3 linked regions of the Homo sapiens genome follow. The protein of the gene in region 1 purifies or fractionates together with the protein of each later gene. This does not show direct contact. Each region holds a gene or a part of one and is shown in the gene's direction. Other genes may lie near its edges.

Region 1 (6,090 bases):
TTAGATGAGGAATGGGCATTCAGAATTTACTGTCTTGCCCCCAGTTCCAGGTAAGACGTTTTAGTGGCAGGCACTTGCTAGTGAACAGCCCTGGAAACAAGTATTTTGAAAAAGGGAGGCTCAGGTAATTTCTTATTTTGATTTGCCTGGTAAAATTGCTAAAGGTTCATGGTAGATTTGTTTCTACACTGGGTTGTGATGTAACAGCCATACAACCATGCTTTTAAGAAATGACTTCCTTAACTGAAGTTGAAACTCTATAATTATTTCCACAGTTGTCTTCCTAAAACCTGTTGATCCAGTATTATCCTAAACTTTAAGGATAGCCAGTCTATGGGGGAGCCCAAGAATGTAGGCACAGTAATAGTGGAAGGGAGTTCTGACTATTTTGAGTTACTTCTCTCTGAGCAAACAAATTTTATCTCAAGGCAGGAATTGAATGATTGCCATGTTCAGCATACCTATCTTTTTTCTTATGTAACAGTAATTATAAAGTTATGTCTTTTGACTTAGGTTTAAATAATTAGGCAGGGCCAGGTGTGGTAGCTTATGTGCCTGAGGGCTCATGCCTGGGATCCCAGCACTTTGGGAGGCCAAGGCAGGCAGATCACTTGAGCCCAGGAGTTCGAGACCAGCCTGGACAACATGGCAAAACCCTATCTCTACCGAAAATACGAAAATTAGCCAGGTGTGCTAGCATCCACCTGTGGTCCCAGCTACTTAGGAAGTTGACGTGGGAGGATCACCTGAGCCCAGGGAGGTGGAGGTTGTAGTGAGCCATGATCTCGCCACTGCACTCCAGCCTGGATGACAAAGTGAGACCCTGTCTCAAAAAAATAAAATAGGCAAAGCGCATTCAAAGAGGCAGGGACCCTAAAAGCAAAGTGTGGTTCTTTAAGACACGTGAGACTGCTTAATTTTTTATTTAATAGGTACAAAGTAATATTTATATATATGAGGTGTAAAGGATAACATTAGGCCAGGCGCAGTGGCTCATGCCTATAATCCCAGAACTTTGGGAGGCCATGGCAGGTGGATCGCTTGAGCTCAGGAGTTTGTGACCAGCCTGGGCAACATAGCGAAACCCCATCTCTACAAAAGATACAAAAAGTAGCCAGGTGTGTAGTGAGCACCTGTAGTCCCAGCTACTTGGGGGGCTGAGACGGGAGAATTGCTTGATCCCGAGAGGTTGAGGTTGCAGTGAGCCAAGATTGTGCCACTGCACTCCAGCCTGGGTGACAGTGAGACCTTGTCTCAAAAAAAAAAAAAGAAAAGAAAAAAAATTAAATAAATACCTGTATACCTACCATTCAACTATAGTTTTTTTCTTGAAAGACTTAGAAAATTAAAACTGTCATATTTCTGTAGCATACATGTTGATTTTCTTTCCCTGCCCCTTTCTGCATCTGAAAACAAATGATTGAAAGGTTTGTTGTTCTTTCTGGATTTTTAAAACCAAAATCCCAACACTTACAGACCAGGATGGTAGAGAAGGCTCTTTTGTTTGTTTGTTTTTGAGACAGGGTCTTTGTCATCCAGGCTGGAGTGCAGTGGTACAATTAGAGCTCACCGCAGCCTCGCACTCCCTCAGGTGATCCTCCCACCTCATCCTCCTGCATAGCTGGGACTACAGGCACAAGCCGACACACCCAGCTAATTTTTTTTATTTTTGCTGCAGAGGAGGGCTGGCTCCCTGTGTTCCCCAGGCTGGTCTCGAACTCCTGGGCTCAAGCAGTCCTGCCATGGCCTCCCAAAGTGCTGGGATTATAGGCATGAGCCACTGCACCTGGCCTGAAGAGGCTCTTTATCTTGAAGACGAGTCTTTTATGTGGAAAGAAATGTTTTTGTAAAAGGGGAATTTGTTTTGAAAGGTCACTTTGTTATGATTACATTCACTTCTGAACATTTGCTGGTTCCCCACTTTTTCTCCCTTCGATGTTTTGCAGAACCATAAGCCCCAAACTCTTTATTCTTTTCTTTCAGTATCTCTAGCTCTCTTGATTAGGATGAGAACTGCTTGAACAGCTGGTTGAGAAATTAAGTGTGAAACACCTTGGAGTCTTTAGCATTTTAGAAAAGTCAAGAAGCATAAAGGGAATGTCCAGACAGGAACAGTCTGGAATCCTCAATACGTGGAAATGATTCTAGACTTGGTAGAATCTGGGATGGCTGTTAACACATTTAGATGATTTAAGTCAAATACAAAAGGTGTTTCAGCTGCTGAAACACTCTGGGTGCAGTGCATGTTTGAATGTCTTTGGAGGACAGAAAATACAGTCCATTCATAAGGGCTGTATGAGAAAGAACTGGGTCTATCTGCCAATACAGTGAAGCTAGCAGATTCTAGAATGTCCATTTTCTGTGTGTGTGTGTGTGTATTTTCTTTTTTTTTTTTTTAAAGACGGAGTCTTGCTCTGTTGCCCAGGCTGGAGTGCAATGGTGTGATCTCGGCTCACTGCAAGCTCTGCCTCCCAGGTTCACGCCATTCTCCTGCCTCAGCCTCCCGAGTAGCTGGGACTACAGGCGCCCACCACCATGCCTAGCTAATTTTTTGTATTTTTAGTAGAGATGCAGTTTCACTGTGTTAGCCAGGATGGTCTCGATCTCCTGACATCGTGATCCGCCCACCTCAGCCTCCCAAAGTGCTGGGATTAGAGGTGTGAGCCACCGTGCCCAGCCGTGTTCAGATTTTTTAATAGAAACTGTTTTGGGGCATTGTGGCTGATGCGTGTAATCCCATCACTTTGGGAGGTGGAGATGAGTGGATCGCTTGAGCCCAGCAGTTGGAGACCAGCCTGGGCAACATAGCAAAAACCCCATCTCTACAAAAAAATACAAAAATTAGCTGGGTGTGGTAGCATGCGCCTGTAGTCCCATCTACTTGGGAGGCTGAGGTGGAAGGATCACTTGAACCCAAGAGGTCAAGGCTGCAGTGAGCCATGGTCATGCCACTGCACTCTAGCCTGGGTGACAAAGTGAGACCCTATTTTTAAAAAAAAAACTATTTTCATATCAAGTTTCAGCACTCCTTCGTGTTATATTTTCTAATATTTATTTATTTTACTTTAGCTTATTTCAATTTGTTCGTACTTTAACTTCACCCAAACAGTGATTGTTAGTCACATAGTATAATGTTATAAATCCAATTCAAAGAGATTTTCATCTAAGAGAAGCAGAATGTAAGTGTTACTAGATGTCACTGCTTTTGAAAATAGGCCACTGAGAATAATCATAAGGGAAGTTACCTTGAATAGGAAACCAAATTCTTAATAGCATTAGCAATAGTAATCTTGCCAATTCAGATCTATGCTTTTCACTGTCTAAACAAGCTCATGCTTCTTCCAGTGTCTGTTAAAATTGTGAGTTATAATTCAGGGATGATGGTAAACTACATGATAAAGCTGTCTGTTTGCTTTGAAAGTATTAAGAGTATTTTTCTTTGCAAAATGGTTGATACAGGAAAAGAATGAATCACTAGATGATAATGTAAAACCCATTCACAAAGCTTATTTAAAAAAAACAAAAAGCACCAGGTCGGGAACAACGAAAAGCCAAATGAAATTAATACCAGGATGTCATATTAATCAACAGACATGTTTGGAATTTCTCCTCTTTCTCAGCCATTATGCTAGGCATTAGCAAAGACTAAGTAAGTCTCAAGAAACTGATAAGCTAGTAGAATATGTCAATTAATAGAATAGAAACTAGATACAGGAAGGAGAAGCGGGCTGAAATAGGAAAGCCTTCTTGGAGGCACCAGGACTGAGCTTAAGCCCCTTGGATGGGTAATTGGGTAATGTGAAAGGAAAGGAAGGCATTCCAGATGGAAAGCATTTCAATGATAGTCCAGATCGAGTTTATTTAGTTGATAGGCCTTTTGACCTATAACCAGCATAGACTAAAACTAGCAAATTTGATAATCTTTGGTTTTACTTGAAGAGATGAGAGCAGAAAAACCTTTAGAAACTGGCAGCTGCTTAACAATTACACTTTAATGGAGTTTATTAATCAAAAATTATTCAGGATCTTGTTTAATTCTACCTAACCGCACTCTAGTTTTAGTCCCGGGGTAGCATTCCACTGGCATGTTATGGCAGCATTTGATTATTTTTTAATACTGCTGAGAACGTGCACTACTGCTCATTCTCAGACTACTTTAACGATTTTATTAGAAGCTGAATAAGCATGATAGTTGAGCAAATTGGCTAGCATTTTGTATGACTGTGTAATTTCTTCTTATGTAAAGGTGATGCTGTGGAGTCTTCAAAAAGCCCGACCACTCTGGATTACAAATTTACAGGAGGATGAAACAGAAGAAATGGAAGGCCCACAGTCACCTGGTCAGCTCTTAAACCCTGCCCTAGCCCATTCTATCTCTGTGGCTTCGTGTGGTAATATTTTTAGTTGTGGTGCAGAAGATGGTAAGGTTCGAATCTTTCGGGTGATGGGAGTTAAGTGTGAACAGGAACTGGGATTTAAGGGCCACACTTCAGGGGTATCCCAGGTCTGCTTTCTCCCAGAATCCTATTTGCTGCTTACTGGAGGGAATGATGGGAAGATCACGTTGTGGGATGCAAACAGTGAAGTTGAGAAAAAACAGAAGAGTCCCACAAAACGTACCCACAGGAAGAAACCTAAAAGAGGAACTTGCACCAAGCAGGGTGGAAATACTAACGCTTCAGTAACAGATGAGGAAGAACATGGCAACATTTTACCAAAGCTAAATATTGAACATGGAGAAAAAGTGAACTGGCTCTTGGGTACAAAAATAAAGGGACACCAAAATATATTAGTAGCTGATCAAACTAGTTGTATATCTGTATACCCCTTAAATGAATTTTAAATCCAATAAAAACATTTGAAGAATTGTGGCAAAACTGTTTTTCAGATTAAAAAAAAAAGCTCCTGGTTCTTTATTTAAGCTGTTTGTTATATGTAAAATCATACTCTTCTGCTGTACAAATTTTAAGATATTTGAACAAAAGACAATTGGATATTTATATAGTAAGTGATATGTTAAAGTTTGGAGGAAGAGAATGAATATTCATTGTGTACCATGTACCAGCCATTTTACGTATATTTGATTTCTTGTTCCGAATCATTGAAGTGATTTCCCCCATTTTAGTGCCACAGGAATTAAGACTTAGAAATGTTAAGTAACTTAAAGATCCAGGAAAATTGCAGGCACAACGACTTGTCTGGAAAGGACCTTGTTAAGCTGCCTACCGTAGGGAAGCCCACATCCTGGTCCAAATTGGTCACCATATTAGTTATTTCTGTCCAGGCGCAGTGACTCACGCCTGTAATCCCAGCACTTTGGGAGGCCGATGCGGGCAGATCATCTGAGGTCAGGAGTTAGAAACCAGCCTGGCCAACATGGCAAAAACCCATCTCTACTAAAAATACAAAAATTGGCTGGGCCTAGTGGCACGTGCCTGTAATCCAAGCTACTCAGGAGACTGAGACGGGAGAATCGCTTGAACCCAGAAGGTAGAGGTTGCAGTGAGCCAAGATCACACCACTGCACTCTAGCCTAGGTGACAGAGCGACTCTGTCTCTAAATAAATAAATAAATAACATTAGTTATTTCTGATCCCAGGATGTCATGAGGAGCATTACCAAGTTGGAAGAGGAAACCTGTTCTTGCTTGTTCTGTGTAAAGCCCAAATTGCTTTGCTGACAATTACCTTTTGCTGTGTTTCTAAAAAACAAAAAGGGTTCCAGGGTCAAATCAGTTTAGGGTATTATGCAGCAATCCAGGCCATGATGCTGGTGGAGTGAGAATAAGTTGCAGTTATTAATAAGCAGAAATTCTGACGAAGCAGAAGATAGAAAAGAGAATAGAGGCCTAGATAGGGTGTCAAGAGTTATGTTCCTTTTCATTGAGGCCTGGATTGCTGTCTTCTCTGCATGTTCTTTCAGCTTTCACTCATACTGCCTACTCTTATATTTAGAGTTTTTTAAATTTTAATTTAATTTTTTTATAGAGAGGAGCCTTGCTATGTTGGCCAAACTGGTCTCAAACTCCTGGCCTCAAGCAATCCTCCTGTCTTAGCCTCCCAAAGTGCTGGGAGTACAGGTGTGAGCCAC
Region 2 (8,605 bases), on another chromosome or scaffold:
TTTTGTTTTTGTCTACCTCCCCTCCCCTTACTGGACTATTAATTCCAGAGACTGTGTCTTGTTCCTGCTATGTCTCCCAGAGTCTAGAGCAGTGGAAGACACATAGTAGCTGGTCAATAAATGTTTCACGACTGAGCAAGCAAGTGAGTGAACAAGGCAGAGATGACAGGTTGCCCCTGGGCTTTCCTTACAGAGATGTCGCCACAATGAATGAGCAGGGCTTCTGCAAGATCGTGGGCCGCTCTAAGGATATGATCATCCGGGGTGGTGAGAACATCTACCCCGCAGAGCTCGAGGACTTCTTTCACACACACCCGAAGGTGCAGGAAGTGCAGGTGAGGCACTTGGCTCAGGTGAGCCCCCAGAAACAAGAAACACACATGAACACGGTGATGTCTGATATTTTTCTTTGGCCCTGGAAGGTGGTGGGAGTGAAGGACGATCGGATGGGGGAAGAGATTTGTGCCTGCATTCGGCTGAAGGACGGGGAGGAGACCACGGTGGAGGAGATAAAAGCTTTCTGCAAAGGGAAGGTGGGAGCCTCCGCTCAACCTAGCTGATGCTGCTCTGTTCTTTGCTCACCCACTCCTCTGCCAACCAGCCCAGGGTGGGGATTGCTCTGCCCTTGACGAAGCTGACTCCTGGCCAGGCCAGCCCCTGGTCCCCTACCCATACCCCTGTGAGCTTGCGCAGCCTCACGCCTTACCTCCCTCCCTCTGGTCTGCAGATCTCTCACTTCAAGATTCCGAAGTACATCGTGTTTGTCACAAACTACCCCCTCACCATTTCAGGAAAGGTGTGTAAGGTGGAGGAGGCTGGGGAGGGCAGCCTGGGCTCTGGGGCCCCATAGGGCCCCACCTCTGTTTCCTTCAGCAATGGGTGTGGAGAGACTGGCAGTAGGGTGACCGGGTCACCTAATCCTGGTTTGCCTGGGGACTTTCCCTGTTTTGGCACTAAGAGCCTGAGAAACCCCTTATTCTTGGGTGAACCAAGACAGCTGGTAACCCTAACTCCATTTTCTTTCCTCTAGATCCAGAAATTCAAACTTCGAGAGCAGATGGAACGACATCTAAATCTGTGAATAAAGCAGCAGGCCTGTCCTGGCCGGTTGGCTTGACTCTCTCCTGTCAGAATGCAACCTGGCTTTATGCACCTAGATGTCCCCAGCACCCAGTTCTGAGCCAGGCACATCAAATGTCAAGGAATTGACTGAACGAACTAAGAGCTCCTGGATGGGTCCGGGAACTCGCCTGGGCACAAGGTGCCAAAAGGCAGGCAGCCTGCCCAGGCCCTCCCTCCTGTCCATCCCCCACATTCCCCTGTCTGTCCTTGTGATTTGGCATAAAGAGCTTCTGTTTTCTTTGGCTTCTTGCTGGTGGGCTCTCTTGGCAGCTACTACAGGATGGAGAAGGGAAGACACTGAGGGGAACTAGCACTTTCAGACGTCCTATTCCTTGTCATTGAGAGTGCAGAGCACCTTGATGTGGATTATCTACTTAATTTAACCCTCACCCTTGGTATCCCTTTGAGATACCAACCCATTTTTGTTGTTGTTCTTGTTTTTTGAGACAGAGTCTTGCCCTGTCACCCAGGCTGGAGTGTAGTCATGCGATCTCAGCTCACTGCAACCTCTGCCTCCCTAATTCAAGTGATTCTCCTTCCTCACCCTCCCAAGTAACTGGGATTGCAGATACCCACCACCACACCCAACTAACTTTTGTATTTTTAGTAGAGGCGAGGTTTTACCATGTTGGCCAGGCTGGTCCTCAAACTCCTGACCTCAAGCAATCCGCCTGCCTCAGCCTACCAAAGTGCTGGGATTACAGGCATGAACCACTGCGCCTGGCCCCAATTTTTTATTTTTAAGCTACTCTAATTTAATTCTTTTTCACATTGTTGCCAGATTAGTCTAGCAAGAAGTATTCTTTTTATATATGTATAACAGCTTGATTGAGATGTAATTCACATACTCTCCAGTTCACTCCCACCTCCCCCATTTTCTAGAGACAGGATCTCATTCCGTCACCCGTGCTGGAGTGCAGTGACTCACTGTAGCGACATGATCATAGCTCACTGCAGCCTCGAACTCCTGGGCTCAAGCAGTCCTCCCACCTCAGCCTCCTGAGTAGCTGGGACTGTAGGAATGTGCCACCATGTCTTAACTAATTTTTAAACATAGACACAGGATCTTGCTATGTTGCCTAGGCTGGTCTAGAACTCATGGGCTCAAGCAATCCTCCTGCCTCAGTCTCTCAAAGTGCTGGGACAATCTACCATTTAAAGTATAGAATTCAGTGGTCTTTAGTATATTCACAAATATGTGTAACTATCACCACAGTCAATTTTAAATATTGTCATCACCTAAGAAAGAAACCCCATACTCTTTAACTATTATCTCCCATCTCCCAGCCCCCTTCCTCCCCAACCAACCTCATTTTTAGTTTTTATTTGTTTTGATTGGTGAACCTGGGGCATCCCTCGTAGGCAGGGCCAGATAAAGCAGGTTGTACCTTGACCCAAGAAATAAAAACAGCTGGGTTCCAAAAGGCACATAGATTCCCAGTTCACAGGAATGGAAACTTGCCTCCTGCCTGCCCCCTTACCTCCCAGCGCGCCTGCCCCCTTACCTCCCAGCGCGCCTGCCCCCTTACCTCCCAGCGCGCCTGCCCCCTTACCTCGCAGCGCGCCTGCCCCCTTACCTCGCAGCGCTCCTGCCCCCTTACCTCCCAGCGCGCCTGCCCCCTTACCTCGCAGCGCGCCTGCCCCCTTACCTCGCAGCGCGCCTGCCCCCTTACCTCCCAGCGCGCCTGCCCCCTTACCTCGCAGCGCGCCTGCCCCCTTACCTCCCAGCGCGCCTGCCCCCTTACCTCGCAGCGCGCCTGCCCCCTTACCTCGCAGCGTGCCTGCCCCCTTACCTCCCAGCGTGCCTGCCCAAGGCAGCAGCAGCCTCCTCTTGACTTTTTAAGAAATGAACATAGGTTTAAGGTATTTTCAGTACCAGGCTCTGTGCTAGGTACTTTCACATTATTTTCTCTCCAAATCTTCCCAACAATCCTTTCAAGTAGCCATTGGTCCCACTTCACCAATGACCCAACAGAAACTCAGGGAGGTTCCGTATCTTGCTCAAGGTCACACAGCTGGATCAGAACCCAGCTGTCTGTTAGGCAGGTTCACTGCACACTAGTTACCAACTTGTCAGAGTCCAGTGAGGCAAACACCCACAAGTTACATAACGCTGAGTCCAGCGAGGCAAACACAAGTGACATGCAACGTGTTTATTACCTATAGGTAGGCACTAAGGGACAACAGAAGGCTGGGATTCATTTGGAGCTGGACCCCTACGGCTCAGGAAAGCTGCTGAGGCAGCTGGGGGATGGACCGTTGTCTGTGCATGCCTGACTTTTTTTTTTGTTGTTGGTTTGTTGTGAGATGGAGTCTCGCTCTTTCACCCGGGCTGGAGTGCAGTGGTGTGAACCCTGGGATTCAAGCAATTTTCCTGCCTCAGCCTCCCTGGTAGCTGGGATTACAGGCGTGCACTACCACGTCCAGCTATTTTTTTTTTTTTTAGTAGAAACAGTTTCGCCATGTTGGCCAGGCTGGTCTTGAACTTCTGACCTCAGGTGATCCACCCGCCTCGGCCTCCCAAAGTGTTGTGATAACAGGCATGGGCCACCACGCCCAGCCAGCCAGACTTGTACTGAAGCTGAGGGACCCCAGAAACCAGCCCGCCCTGTTTTTCGTTTGTTTGTTTGTTTGTTTGATACAGAGTCTCACTCTGTCTCCCAGGCTGGAGTGCAGTGTCGCCATCTGGGCTCACTGCAACTTCCGCCTCCCAGGTTCAAGCAATTCTCCTGCCTCAGCCTCCCGGGTAGCTGGGACTACTGGCACGCACCACCACACCTGGCTAGTTTTTTGTATTTTTAGTAAAAACGGGGTTTCACCGTGTTAGCCAGGATGGTCTCAATCTCCTGACCTTATGATCCGCCCGCATCGGCCTCCCAAAGTGCTGGGATTACAGGAGTAAGCCACCGCGCCCGGCTTCTGCCCTGGGCTTTATACCCTGGGGCCATGTGACATGTTGGGCTGAAGTGTTGAAGGACATGCTTTTTCTAGGGGGACTGGAACAGAGCATGGCTGTGCTGGCCAGTCCTTCCTTCCCTCAGGATGTTGCATTCTCTGCACACTCTACAGTTTTATTTATTTATTTATTGAGACAGTCTTGCTCCATCACCCAGGCTGGAGTGCAGTGGCACTGTCTCAGCTCACTGCAACCTCCGCCTCCCAGGTTCGAGGGATTCTCCCTGCTCAGCCTCCCGTGTAGCTGGGATTACAGGTGCCCACCACCACGCTTGGATAATTTTTGTATTTTTGGTAAAGACGGGGTTTCAGCATGTTGGCTAGGCTGGTCTTGAACTTCTGATCTCAAGTGATCTGCCCGCCTCGGCCTCCCAAAGTGCTGGGATTACAGGCGTCTACAGTTATTCTTGAGAACTACAAGCAAGAAAGGAGGGGAGAACCAGGTCAGTTCAAGGCCACTGGGAGAACTGTCCTGCACCGCCTGCCTCTGAAGCCCATGATGTTTCTGCTTTGTGGGACAGTTGTTCAGGTGCCTGCTTCCCCAGGCCTTCCCCTGCGCCTTCCCCCTCTCTCCTACACACACCATCTGACTGTCCTTCCAGCACGTACACCTCCAGATGCTTGGGTTGGCCTGACCCAAAACAGTCTACTCTCCCGGCCAAGCCAATTGCCCCTGGGATTTTCTGCTCCTCCAAGATCCCGTGCATAGCCCTGGTGGTGGCTCATGCCCTTAATCCTTAGTTACTCTAGATGCTGAGGCAGGAGGATCGCTTGAGGCCGAGGAGTTCAAGACCTCCCCTCTCCCAAATATTTGTAAATGAAATTAAAAGAAAGATCCAGCCCAAGTGTCTCTTCTGCCCTACTGACTCCCACACTCTTAAAACAGATGACCTCACAGCACTGAGGCGGACGGCTCTGGTGTCCAGCAGGCACGGAATTAATACGCCTTGCCTGTCCTGGCCGGTTGGCTTGCCTCTCTCCTGCCAGAATGCAACCTGGCTTTATGCACCTAGATGTCCCCAGCGCCCAGTTCTGAGCCAGGCACATCAAATGTCAAGGAATTGACTGAACAAACTAAGAGCTCCTGGATGGGTCCGGGAACTCGCCCGGGCACAAGGTGCCAAAAGGCAAGCAGCCCGCCTCGCGGCCTGGGGAAAGAACCGACAGGAGGCCGCAGTGAGCGCCCGGGCGCCCGGCAGGTGGCGCCGCAGCCCCGGGCCCGGGCCCTCTTGTCGCGCGGTCACGCAGCCCCTCTTCCTTCCGCCGGCTGCGCACTCACAGTGATCCCTGCGCGCGTCTCCTGCTCGGGTCAGTGCGCCGCGCTGCGCTGGGCGCCATGGCGCTCCCCGGAGCCCGGGCTCGCGGCTGGGCGGCAGCAGCCAGAGCGGCCCAGAGGCGCCGCCGCGTGGAGAACGCAGGAGGGTCCCCGAGTCCTGAGCCTGCGGGCCGGCGCGCGGCGCTTTACGTACACGTGAGTAGGGGCGGGGGCGGAGCCCACGGTGTGTGGCCGCAGCCCTGGCCGTGACCGTGGCCGTCCAAAACCCAGGTGGCGGTTTGTCACTCTATGAACCCGCCTGCCGTGTTTCCGTGCCCCCGTACGAGGTCTGGGATGGGACCCTGTGCTTTGGCAGGGAAATGACTTGGTCCAGAAACCTGAAGTCTCTGCTACTCACCGGCTCGGTGACTCTGACCAAATGGTTCAAATTTCATAACAATTTTCCTCTTAGCAAGACAAAATTTTCTTAAGAGCAGTGTTCTGACTCGGTAGCTGGGAAAATGGCTCATAGGAAAATTGTATGAAAATTATATGATCCCAGAAAGAGCTTGGGTTGAATTCCTTCCTGACGTCTGCTGGTTGGAAGAGGCAGCGTAACAAAGGAGTGAGCCTCAGTTTTCTCACATTGAAGTGGATGTAATAACCCCAGTGCGACCTGCCTTGGGGAGTTGTGTGGCTTAGATGTCCTAGCTACTGTGGAAAGACCTCGGGATAGGGGTGGGGGTGGGGTTGGGGGTGTGTGCGACTGAACCCTGGAAGTGGCCAGGGCAGCTCTCACCGCGCACGTGCACTCACTGCCCCCAGTGGCCTTACTGCGAGAAGCGCTGCAGTTACTGCAACTTCAACAAGTACATCCCTCGCCGCCTGGAGGAGGCTGCCATGCAGAAGTGTCTGGTGACCGAAGCTCAGACGCTGCTGCGGCTCAGCGGGGTGCAACGGTGGGTAGTGGGGGCTGTAGGCAGCGTTTTGGGAAATATTTGGAGGAGTGGTGGGGGATAGGTGCAGGCATCCCAGAGGGCTCCCCCAGGTCTCATTTCTCCATTCTCTTTCCCCAGGGTGGAGTCTGTGTTCTTTGGTGGGGGGACCCCCAGTCTAGCCAGTCCCCACACGGTGGCTGCTGTCCTGGAGGCTGTGGCACAGGCAGCCCACCTGCCTGCAGACTTGGAAGTCACATTGGAGGCTAATCCTACTTCAGCTCCGGGCTCCAGACTGGCAGAGTTCGGGGCAGCAGGGGTTAACAGGTTGTCTATAGGCCTCCAGGTAACCCATGGCACTCACCCCATCCCAGTGCACCCCGCCCTTCAGTGCCATCTCCTCTTTGGTCACATTCATTCATTGGGCAAACATTGATTGAGCACCTTCTGGGTGCCAGGGACACAGTAGGGCCTAGTGCGACACTTTTATAACTCCTTAATTGTCTGCTGCTGTCATAGACCACAGACTTTATGAGAAAGGGATCAGGTGTGGCTTTTCTATTTCAAACACTTACCATAGTGCCTGGCACATAGTAGGTGGTCAAAAAAGATTTGCTACATGACACGGGAGACGCAGACATGTAGCCAGATTATTGCAGCATGGTAAATGTCACCTGTAAAGGGGGTCTCTATAAAAGGCTTCTAGAGTACAGCCTGAAGGGAGGTCACTCTGATGAAATCACTGAAACTTCTCTGGAGGAGATGTTTGAATGAAGAGGAAGAGTTCACCAGGTGAGGGGGTGTGGGGGAAACGACACAGGCCATGGAAGAGCCTGGCATGTTTTGGGGGAGTTGTGAGTCATTCCTTGTGATTGGAGAGGCTGGAAACAAGGTTGCAAGGTAGAGTCCAAAACCTTTGGTGCCTACTAAGGAGTGTGGGTTTTGTCCTAGTAATGATAGGGAGCCATTGAAGGTTTTTAAGTAGGGAGAAACCTAGTCGTCTCAGGTTGACCTCCGATATTTCCGTAGGACTTCCGGGTTGTGGGCTTTGTTCTGATGGAATATGCTGACAGAAACACATCACTTCTAAGATATTCTTACCCCAAAGCGCATATCTTGAATCTAATTGTCAGGAAACCCTGAATTAAGAGATTTTTACAAAATTATTGTGGTAAGAACAGACAGCATGAGATCTACCGTCTTAACAAGTTTTTAAATGTACATACAGCACTGTTAACTATAAGCACAGTGTTATACAGCCAATCTGTAGAAATTATTCATTTTAAATAATTCATTTAAATAATTATAATTCGTAAATAATAATAATTTATTTAAATTCATTAAATTATTCATTTTAAACAACTGGCCTGTATTCTTCAAAAATGCCAGTGTCATGAGAGACAAAGAAAGGCTGAGAATCTAAAGGAGACAGAAGAGACAGCTGAATACAATGTGTGGCCCCTGACTGGGGAGGAAGGAGGAAATTACTACAGTAGATGTTATTGGGACCATTAGCCAAATTTGAATATGACAATGTATTATGTAATGGTGTTGTGTCAGTGTTGCATTTCCTGAACTCTGTAATTGGATTGCAGTTATGTAAGAGAATGTCCTTGTTCTTTAGGAAATACACACCTAAGTATTTAGAGGTTAGGGAGTATAATATCTATAACTGCTATTCAATATAGTGGCCACTAGCCACAGACTAGTGAGCATTTGAAATGTGGTAAGTTAAGTTTAATTCACTTAAATTTAAATAACCACATGTGGCTACTACCTATCATATTGGACAGTACAGATATGAACATTTCCACCATTGTAGAAAGTTCTTTTGGACAGTGCTGGTTTATAATTTACTGTTAAATGATTCAGCATAATAACAGGTATGTATGTTTAAAGAGAAACAAATATGGACAAATGGTGAATCAAGATGAAGGTTTTTTTTGTGATTTTCTTTCAACTTTTCTATAGGTTAGAATTATTTAAAATTGAAAAGTAAAGTAAATAAAGACTTGATTTTGGAGTCAGACAGTCCTAAATTCCAGGTCGAACTTTGCAACTGTATGGCCTGGACAAGTTACTTAACACCTCTGAACCTCAGTTTTCTCATCTGTAAAATAGAACTAATATTGGAGGGTTACAAAGATTAAATTAGACACTACATAAAGGTGCTTGGCACATAGCGACCCTTCTGTGAATGGCAGCTCTTGGTGCCAGCTTGACCTTCCCCCTCCTGCCTTCCAGCTGCCTGCCACGTGCTGCGTTCTCCCTGTATCTGTGTCTACAATGGGGAGGAGGGTTCTTGTCTCTCTCTGAGCTGCTGGTATGCTTACACCCA
Region 3 (7,849 bases), on another chromosome or scaffold:
TCTGTGCGAGGCCCTGGCGAGGAGTTCTGCCCAGCTGGGTAGTGACCGCCGCTGCTGCCCTGACTGAAGCCCGTCCCCTTCTGTGGGGGTCTCACTGGCCGAGGCCCCCCAGCTTCCCGTGTCCGGCAGAGCGAGGAAGGGGAGGAGAAGCCTCAGAGGGATGGGGAGGCTGGAGCAGCGGGAAGGAGCTGCGTGGCCAGGCCCTCCTCCTGACCTCATTCAGTTTTCCTTTCTCCTTACCTTAAAAAAACACACACACACAGAGGGTTATTTATCTGACAGCCCCAAACACGGTGGTATTATTGGCCTCTGGTTGAGGAAGGGATCTGGGGGCGTCCGCAGCTTCAGATAAAGGGGAGCCCTCGCCCGGGAGGGGTTTATCCCATCTGGCGGCTTCGCTCGTAGAGCGAGCGACTCCCAGGCCCTTGCGCCACCTGCTGGTGGACCTGCGTAGCCGCGCCCATTTCGGAGCAGGTGCGGAGGCCGGCCCTGGGGGGCAGGGTCTGGGTGTGGGGTCCCGACGGAGGGGGCCGGCGTCCCAGGACCCCGACGGAGAGCAAGGGGGTGCTGGAGCCCATCTCCCGCCTCTCGCGGCCACTCTGCTGTAACAAGCAGCTCGCACCACCAGGGACTCCTGGGTCCCGGGTCCCGCCCTCAGCCGTGACCCTCACCCGCTCCAGATGGGGAAGGGATCCTTCAAGTATGCCTGGGTGCTGGACAAGCTGAAGGCGGAGCGTGAGCGCGGCATCACCATCGACATCTCCCTCTGGAAGTTCGAGACCACCAAGTACTACATCACCATCATCGATGCCCCCGGCCACCGCGACTTCATCAAGAACATGATCACGGGTACATCCCAGGTGAGCAGGGCACAGCAGGCGGGGCTGGGGGAGAGGCCGCTGCACCCTTCAAGGGACACTGGGGGCCCCTGGGGTCACTGGGATGGTAGGGTCTCCTGTGCTTCCTGTGAGGGCAGGGGACCCCTCACCTGGGCCACCCTCACCCAGTCTGGCTCAGAGCCCCCCTAAGGATGAATCCAGTGCTCTGGCATCTGAACCAGTGCCTGTGAAGGCATCCAGCCAGTGTCAGAGTCCCCAGATAGATGGGGGCAGATGGGGACGTGGACACACCTTCATACATGGAGGGGTTGGAGGCCAGGATGGGGAGAGTGAGCAGTGGGCAGAGGTGCCACCCGCCAGGTGTAGACTGTATGACATTTCAGGGCACTCACAGAGACGCACGGACACCCCAGACACAGCACCCTGCAGACAGCAGGACACATGCCACCACCTCCAAACTGCTTTGATAACTGTGACTTCTATCCGTCCTCAAGTGAGGAACAGGAGCAGATAGGCTGAGTGACTTGTCCAGGGACACACAGCCCACTGGTGGTGGAGCCAGGGCTGAACCTCGGTCCCCTGACCCAGGGCCTGGCGATGAGCCCCCATGCTGCCCTTGAAGTGGGGACCCCCATGCCTCCCTCCCCAAGGCCCCAGTGGGCTGCTCAGGCCCCAGCCCGCTGCCTGGAGAGGCCTGGAAGTGAGGTGGGGCCAGGCTCGCTCTGTCCCCTGCCAGGCAGGCGGGGCAGGGCTCACTGTGTCCCCTGCCGGGCAGGCGGACTGCGCAGTGCTGATCGTGGCGGCGGGCGTGGGCGAGTTCGAGGCGGGCATCTCCAAGAATGGGCAGACGCGGGAGCATGCCCTGCTGGCCTACACGCTGGGTGTGAAGCAGCTCATCGTGGGCGTGAACAAAATGGACTCCACAGAGCCGGCCTACAGCGAGAAGCGCTACGACGAGATCGTCAAGGAAGTCAGCGCCTACATCAAGAAGATCGGCTACAACCCGGCCACCGTGCCCTTTGTGCCCATCTCCGGCTGGCACGGTGACAACATGCTGGAGCCCTCCCCCAACGTGAGTGGCGGCTAGGGCGGGGCGGGCCACGGGAGCTGGCTGGACCCCCTGGCCCAGAGCGAGGCACCGGCAGGTGGCACGGGGAGGTCGAGGGCCTGTCCCCGGGAAATGCAGGTTCCCCTCGAAACCTGCTGGGTTTCCCTAACTGGCTCAGGGCCCGGCGGGGAGCCCCATGCCCCTCAGCACCGGGCTTTGCTCCTACACTCAGCCTCCCACGCGGCTGGCCGGGGCCAGGGCCCATCTACGATGTCAACACAGCAGGGGCAGCGGCCTCCAGCACCAGGCCCATGTGCTTGGTCTCCAGAGCCCTGCCATGGGGGCGGTCGGTTTCATCTCTGCCAGGCCATTGTCCTGGTCCTGGACACCGTGCAGGGGCTTTGGGCTGGGCCGTGGGGGCCTCCTTGGCTGCCTCCCCTGGGATCTTGGAGCAGGGTTGGGCTTTGGGAAGTGTGCATGCTTCTGGGCTTGCTGGGATGGCCAAGGGTTGGCTCTTGGCCGGTCACCTGGGAGCTCAACGTGCGAACAGTCTGTAGCCCAGGGACTCTGCCTTGGCTGGAGGTGACGCGTGGAGACACTTGCAGAACCTGAGACTGTTCCCAGGGTTCTCCAAGCCAGAGGAGACCCCAGAATGGCCACCACTAGGCTCTGCCAGCACTGTCGCTGCCCACAGTGAGGGTGCAGGTGTGGAGTCTAGAGACAGCAGGGAGACAGACCAGCAGCACTGAGCCTGGAGCTGAGGTCTGGGGACAGAACTGGGAGGGACTCCCCCAGCTCCGCCTCCATCTCACGAGGCTCGGTGTTGTTTACCTGTGATGGCGTTTTCCTCATGGGGTATCATGTGGCGAACGCCACTCTCCCCTCCCCAGGGAGGCCTCCAGCCATCAGGGACCCTGCACTCCCCTCTGGCCTGAGCTGCTAGGTGGCTCGTGCTTACACAGGCCCTGGGGGGCTGGGGCACTGTGCTGCCGGCCCCCTCCCCTGCTCCCTGTTTGTGGCAGGTGGCCCAGAGGGAGGCTTCATGGGATGGGAGTGGGGGCCACACTAGGAGAAGCTCCGGACAAGGCTGGGCCAAGCTCGGAGGCAGCACGGTGTCCAGAAGCTAGGGTGGGGCGAGGCTCCTCCAGCTCTGTCCCTGGCCTGGCCCTTGGCCAGACTCAGCATCCTCCTAGTCAAGTCATCTGCCCTGCCTGGAGCTGATGGTCAGGGGCCCGGGGTTTCGGGGACTTGGGGCTGGACTGGGGATTTGTTCACAGTGTCAGCAACTCCTGAGCAGCCTGGGCTGGGAAGGGTGCTTTCCCTCTTTGTCCTCCTCCTTTTAAGAGGGATCTCCTTCCCAGAGTCCCTGTGATGCTGGGGCTATGGGCTGGGGAGGAGCAGGGTGGGGAAATTCCTCATCTCAAAGGGCACGAGGCAAGTTTAGCCTGAACAGCAGTACTCCTGGAAGCACCCTGGGGAGGCCTGAGGGTGGGGAGGCCACCAATGTCTCTTAACGGATTGATTTTCTCCCTTTGGTCCAGATGCCGTGGTTCAAGGGCTGGAAGGTGGAGCGTAAGGAGGGCAACGCAAGCGGCGTGTCCCTGCTGGAGGCCCTGGACACCATCCTGCCCCCCACGCGCCCCACGGACAAGCCCCTGCGCCTGCCGCTGCAGGACGTGTACAAGATTGGCGGTGAGCAAGGGCGCTGTGCTGGAGCTCCTGCCTGGCCAGCTCTGCCTGCCCTAGACCAGGGGCCCCTACAAGGCATCTCAAGACTGGGCTGTCTCCAATCTCTCCCCTTACCACACACTTTCTGTGGGACAGTCCATCCCACATCCATCCATCCATCCACCCACCTCCCCACCCATCCATCCTCTGTCCATCCATCCACCCATCCATCTATCCACCTCTCCATCCATCTATCTATCCATCCATCCATCCATCGATCCATCCATCTCCCCACCCATCCATCCTTCACTCCATCCATCCATCCATCCATTGTCCCATCCATCCTTCTCTCTATCGAACCATCCCTCCATCTCTCCATCTATCCACCTCCCCACCCATCCATCCTTCTGTCCATCAATCCATCCATCCATCCATCCATCCACCTCTCCATCCATCCATCCATCTCCCCACCCATCCATCCTTCTCTCTATCCATCCATCCATCCATCCATCCATTGATTGTCCCACCCATCCATCCTTCTCTCTATCCCTCCATCCATCCATCCATGCATCCATCCATCCATTGTCCCACCCATCCATCCTTCTCTCTATCCATCCATCCATCCTTCCATCCATCCATCCACCTCCCCACCCATCCATCCTTCTGTCCATCCATCCATCCATCCATCTCTCCATCCATCCATCCATCCATCCATTGTCTCAACCATCCATCCTTCTCTCTATCCATCCATCCATCCATCCATCCATCTACCCACCCATCCATCCTTCTCTCTATCCATCCATCTATTGACCCACCCATCCATCCTTCTATCTATCCATCCATCCATTCATCCACTCACCCACCTACCCACCCATCCATCCTTCTGTACATCCATCCATCCATCCATCCACCCACCTACCTATCCATCCATCCTTCCATCCATCCATTTATCCATCCATCCATCCATCCATCTATCCACCCACCTACCCACCCATACATCCATCCATCCACCTCCCCATCCATCCACTTCCCCATCCATCCATCCATCCATCCATCTCCCCATCCACCCATCCACCTCTCTATCCATCCATCTCCCCACCCAGCCATCCTTCCCTCCATCATCCATCCATCCATCTCATCCATCCGTTCATCTCCTCATCCATCCATCCATCCATCCATCCATCCATCCATCCATCCATCCACCTCCCCATCCGTCCGTCCATCCATCCATCCATCCATCTATCCCCCCATCCATCCATCCATCCATCCATCCATCCATCCATCTATCCATCCACCTCCCCATCCATCCATTCATCCACCCACCTTCCTACCCATCCATCCTTCTGTCCATCCACTCATCTACCTCCTCATCCATCCATCCATCCATCCATCCACCAATCCATCCATCCATCTCCCTACTCATCCATCTCCCCACCCATCCTTCTGTCCATCCACCTCCCCATCCATCTACCACCCCATTCATACATCCATCCATCCATCCACCCACCTCCCCATCCATCCGTCCATCCATCCATCCATCCCACCAAGAAGAGAAACCATAAACAAATCTGAGACCCTAGAGAAGGGCACTGATAGGAGACCCCCAGCCAGTGGGCTGCAGCCAAAGATGTTGCAGGCATCTCTGTGTGCACTGTGGGGGCATCATGCTCACCCCAGCACAGAGCACAGCCACTGGCCTCAGTGAAGTTGGCTGGAGGCTACAACAGGCCTCCCTCACAGCCCTGGGAGGTGAGGGTGGAGACCCAGTAGCCTGGGGGGGGACAAGACCCCCATGTGGCAGCTGCACAATTGGTTTAAGTAGATCCATGAGAAATGCCAGGGACGCTCATGTGCCGCTGTGCCTGTGCTGCATCTGGCTGAGAGGCCCCTTTAGTGATAGAGACCTGCAGCATCCAAGTGGGGCCCAGAGAGCCTGCAGGGAGCAGGGAGCAGGGCCTGCAGGGAGCAGGGAGCAGGGCCACCAGGCCCCAGGCAGAAGCAGTCAGTCGCCCCGCCCACACTCACAGGGAGGAGTCCTCAGACAAAGGAGGGGTCCCATAGTGCCTCCTTTGAGGGAAAGTGCTCTCCGGGGGCAAGGATGGGACCCCAGGTTCAGACAGCCCCTCTCTGCCCATCCTCCCGCTTCTCTGTCCCTGTGGCTTTTCCGTGGGTTCCTGGGAGCTCTGCTGCTCAGCCTCTTATTTCCCCAGCTGGGTGGGAGAGCCCCCACTTCCCTTGGAATCTCTGTGTCTGCCCTTGTCCCTGGCCTCCCTTCCCCTGCACTCCGCCCATGTGGCCCCAACCCCCAGGCCTGTCGGGGGGATCCAGTCCCAGGCTTTGTTGGTTTCCAGGCTCTGTCCCCGAATATCCTGCCCCAGCATCCCCTCGGGCCCCACCTTCCCCTCACACCCCCTCCCCTCTGCAGGCATTGGCACGGTGCCCGTGGGCCGGGTGGAGACCGGCATCCTGCGGCCGGGCATGGTGGTGACCTTTGCGCCAGTGAACATCACCACTGAGGTGAAGTCAGTGGAGATGCACCACGAGGCTCTGAGCGAAGCTCTGCCCGGCGACAACGTCGGCTTCAATGTGAAGAACGTGTCGGTGAAGGACATCCGGCGGGGCAACGTGTGTGGGGACAGCAAGTCTGACCCGCCGCAGGAGGCTGCTCAGTTCACCTCCCAGGTGGGGGGCTGCGCTGGGTCCAGGGGGCTGGCGCCTGCTGGACAGCAGCAGGACTGTCCTGGGTGAGGCTGCTGTCGGCAGGTGGCCTGGCGTGGGGAGAAAACCAGACCCTCAGGCTGGGCGCAGTGGTTCACGCCTGTAATCCCAGCACTTTGAGAGGCCGAGGCGGGCAGATCACGAGGTCAAGAGATCAAGTCCATCCTGGTCAACATGGTGAAACCCCGTCTCTACTAAAAATACAAAAATTAGCCAGGCGTGGTGGCACGTGCCTGTAGTCCCAGCTATCAGGAAGCTGAGGCAGGAGAATCGCTTGAACCTGGGAGGCGGAGGTTGCAGTGAGCCGAGATTGCGCCACTGCACTCCAGCCTGCGTGACAGAGCGAGACTTCGTCTCAAAAGAAAAAAAAAAAAAGAAAAGGGACCCGCATACCACCGAGGGGGCCACCGAGCACTCAACGAGGGGATCAATCAGTTCTGGGAGGGGTGCAGGCCCTGTGGCTCCCAGCCTGTGTGCAATCGCGGGTCTGTCTTCCACGCTGCACTGCTGGGATGCCCAGCCTTTGAGGTCCTACATTCGTCCTAGAAAAACGCTTTTGTTAACTTACTGTCTGAGACATCTCTGTCATACTTTTATTCTCTACAGTCTTCATTGCCCCTCTTTGCTGGCCTCTTCATATGATTTATTTATTTTTTTTTTGAGACGGAGTCTCGCTCTGTTGCCCAGGCTGGAGTGCAGTGGTGCGATCTCGGCTCACTGCAACCTCCGCCTCCCGGGTTCAAGTGATTCTCCTGCCTCAGCCTCCCAAGTAGGTAAGATTACAGGCATGTGCCACCACGCCTGGCTAATTTTTGTATTATTAGTAGATACGGGGTTTCACCATGTTGGCCAGGCCGGTCTCGAACTCCTGACCTCAAGTGATCCACGTGCGTCAGCCTCCCAAAGTACTGGGATGACAGGTGTGAGCCACCGTGCCTGGCCTCTTCATATGATTTTTAAAAGTGGCTTTATTGAGATACAACTGAAACACAGGAATTGAGGTCCAGTTTTGTCACCCCCCCGCCTTAGTTCCAGCTGGGGTTGGCCGTGTAAGTGCTGCCCCTGCCCCTTCGAAACAATGAATCTCAGTTGTTTATCTTTTGCTTAATGAGGATGTTGAGGTTCAGGTCTGGGGGCTGGGTCCTCAGAGCCTGAGCCCCCTCCAGTCAGCACTCCGGGCCCAGGAGCCCGTGCAGGGGCGCCGGTGACTGGGCCTCCCAGCCCCGCTCTGGCGCCCTCCCGGTGCCCACCGCCGATGTGCCTGATGGCCGCCTGTGGCTCCGCTCGCAGGTCATCATCCTGAACCACCCGGGGCAGATTAGCGCCGGCTACTCCCCGGTCATCGACTGCCACACAGCCCACATCGCCTGCAAGTTTGCGGAGCTGAAGGAGAAGATTGACCGGCGCTCTGGCAAGAAGCTGGAGGACAACCCCAAGTCCCTGAAGTCTGGAGACGCGGCCATCGTGGAGATGGTGCCGGGAAAGCCCATGTGTGTGGAGAGCTTCTCCCAGTACCCGCCTCTCGGTGAGCCGGGGTGGTCCGGGGAGGTGCAGCCCCCAGGCTGTGGCTGATCCA

Evidence for each region.
Region 2: the proteins of WDR53 (region 1) and RSAD1 purify together in Homo sapiens (affinity purification with mass spectrometry; 3 studies listed by BioGRID and IntAct, with this or other methods). This does not show direct contact.
Region 3: the proteins of WDR53 (region 1) and EEF1A2 purify together in Homo sapiens (affinity purification with mass spectrometry; 3 studies listed by BioGRID and IntAct, with this or other methods). This does not show direct contact.

The regions. Positions count from the first base shown.
Region 1 is NC_000003.12:196,552,964-196,559,053, reverse strand, and holds the end of WDR53 (WD repeat-containing protein 53), read left to right. Parts: intron 1-4,246; coding exon 4,247-4,843; 3' UTR 4,844-4,877; downstream 4,878-6,090.
Region 2 is NC_000017.11:50,473,472-50,482,076, forward strand, and holds the start of RSAD1 (radical S-adenosyl methionine domain-containing protein 1, mitochondrial precursor), read left to right. Parts: upstream 1-5,388; 5' UTR 5,389-5,413; coding exon 5,414-5,548; intron 5,549-6,157; coding exon 6,158-6,291; intron 6,292-6,408; coding exon 6,409-6,613; intron 6,614-8,605. Other genes in the region: ACSF2 (medium-chain acyl-CoA ligase ACSF2, mitochondrial), read left to right, coding at 194-335, 423-533, 728-796, 1,031-1,081.
Region 3 is NC_000020.11:63,488,867-63,496,715, reverse strand, and holds part of EEF1A2 (elongation factor 1-alpha 2), read left to right. Parts: intron 1-680; coding exon 681-860; intron 861-1,614; coding exon 1,615-1,911; intron 1,912-3,428; coding exon 3,429-3,579; intron 3,580-5,980; coding exon 5,981-6,237; intron 6,238-7,563; coding exon 7,564-7,798; intron 7,799-7,849. UniProt on the Homo sapiens protein: Translation elongation factor that catalyzes the GTP-dependent binding of aminoacyl-tRNA (aa-tRNA) to the A-site of ribosomes during the elongation phase of protein synthesis.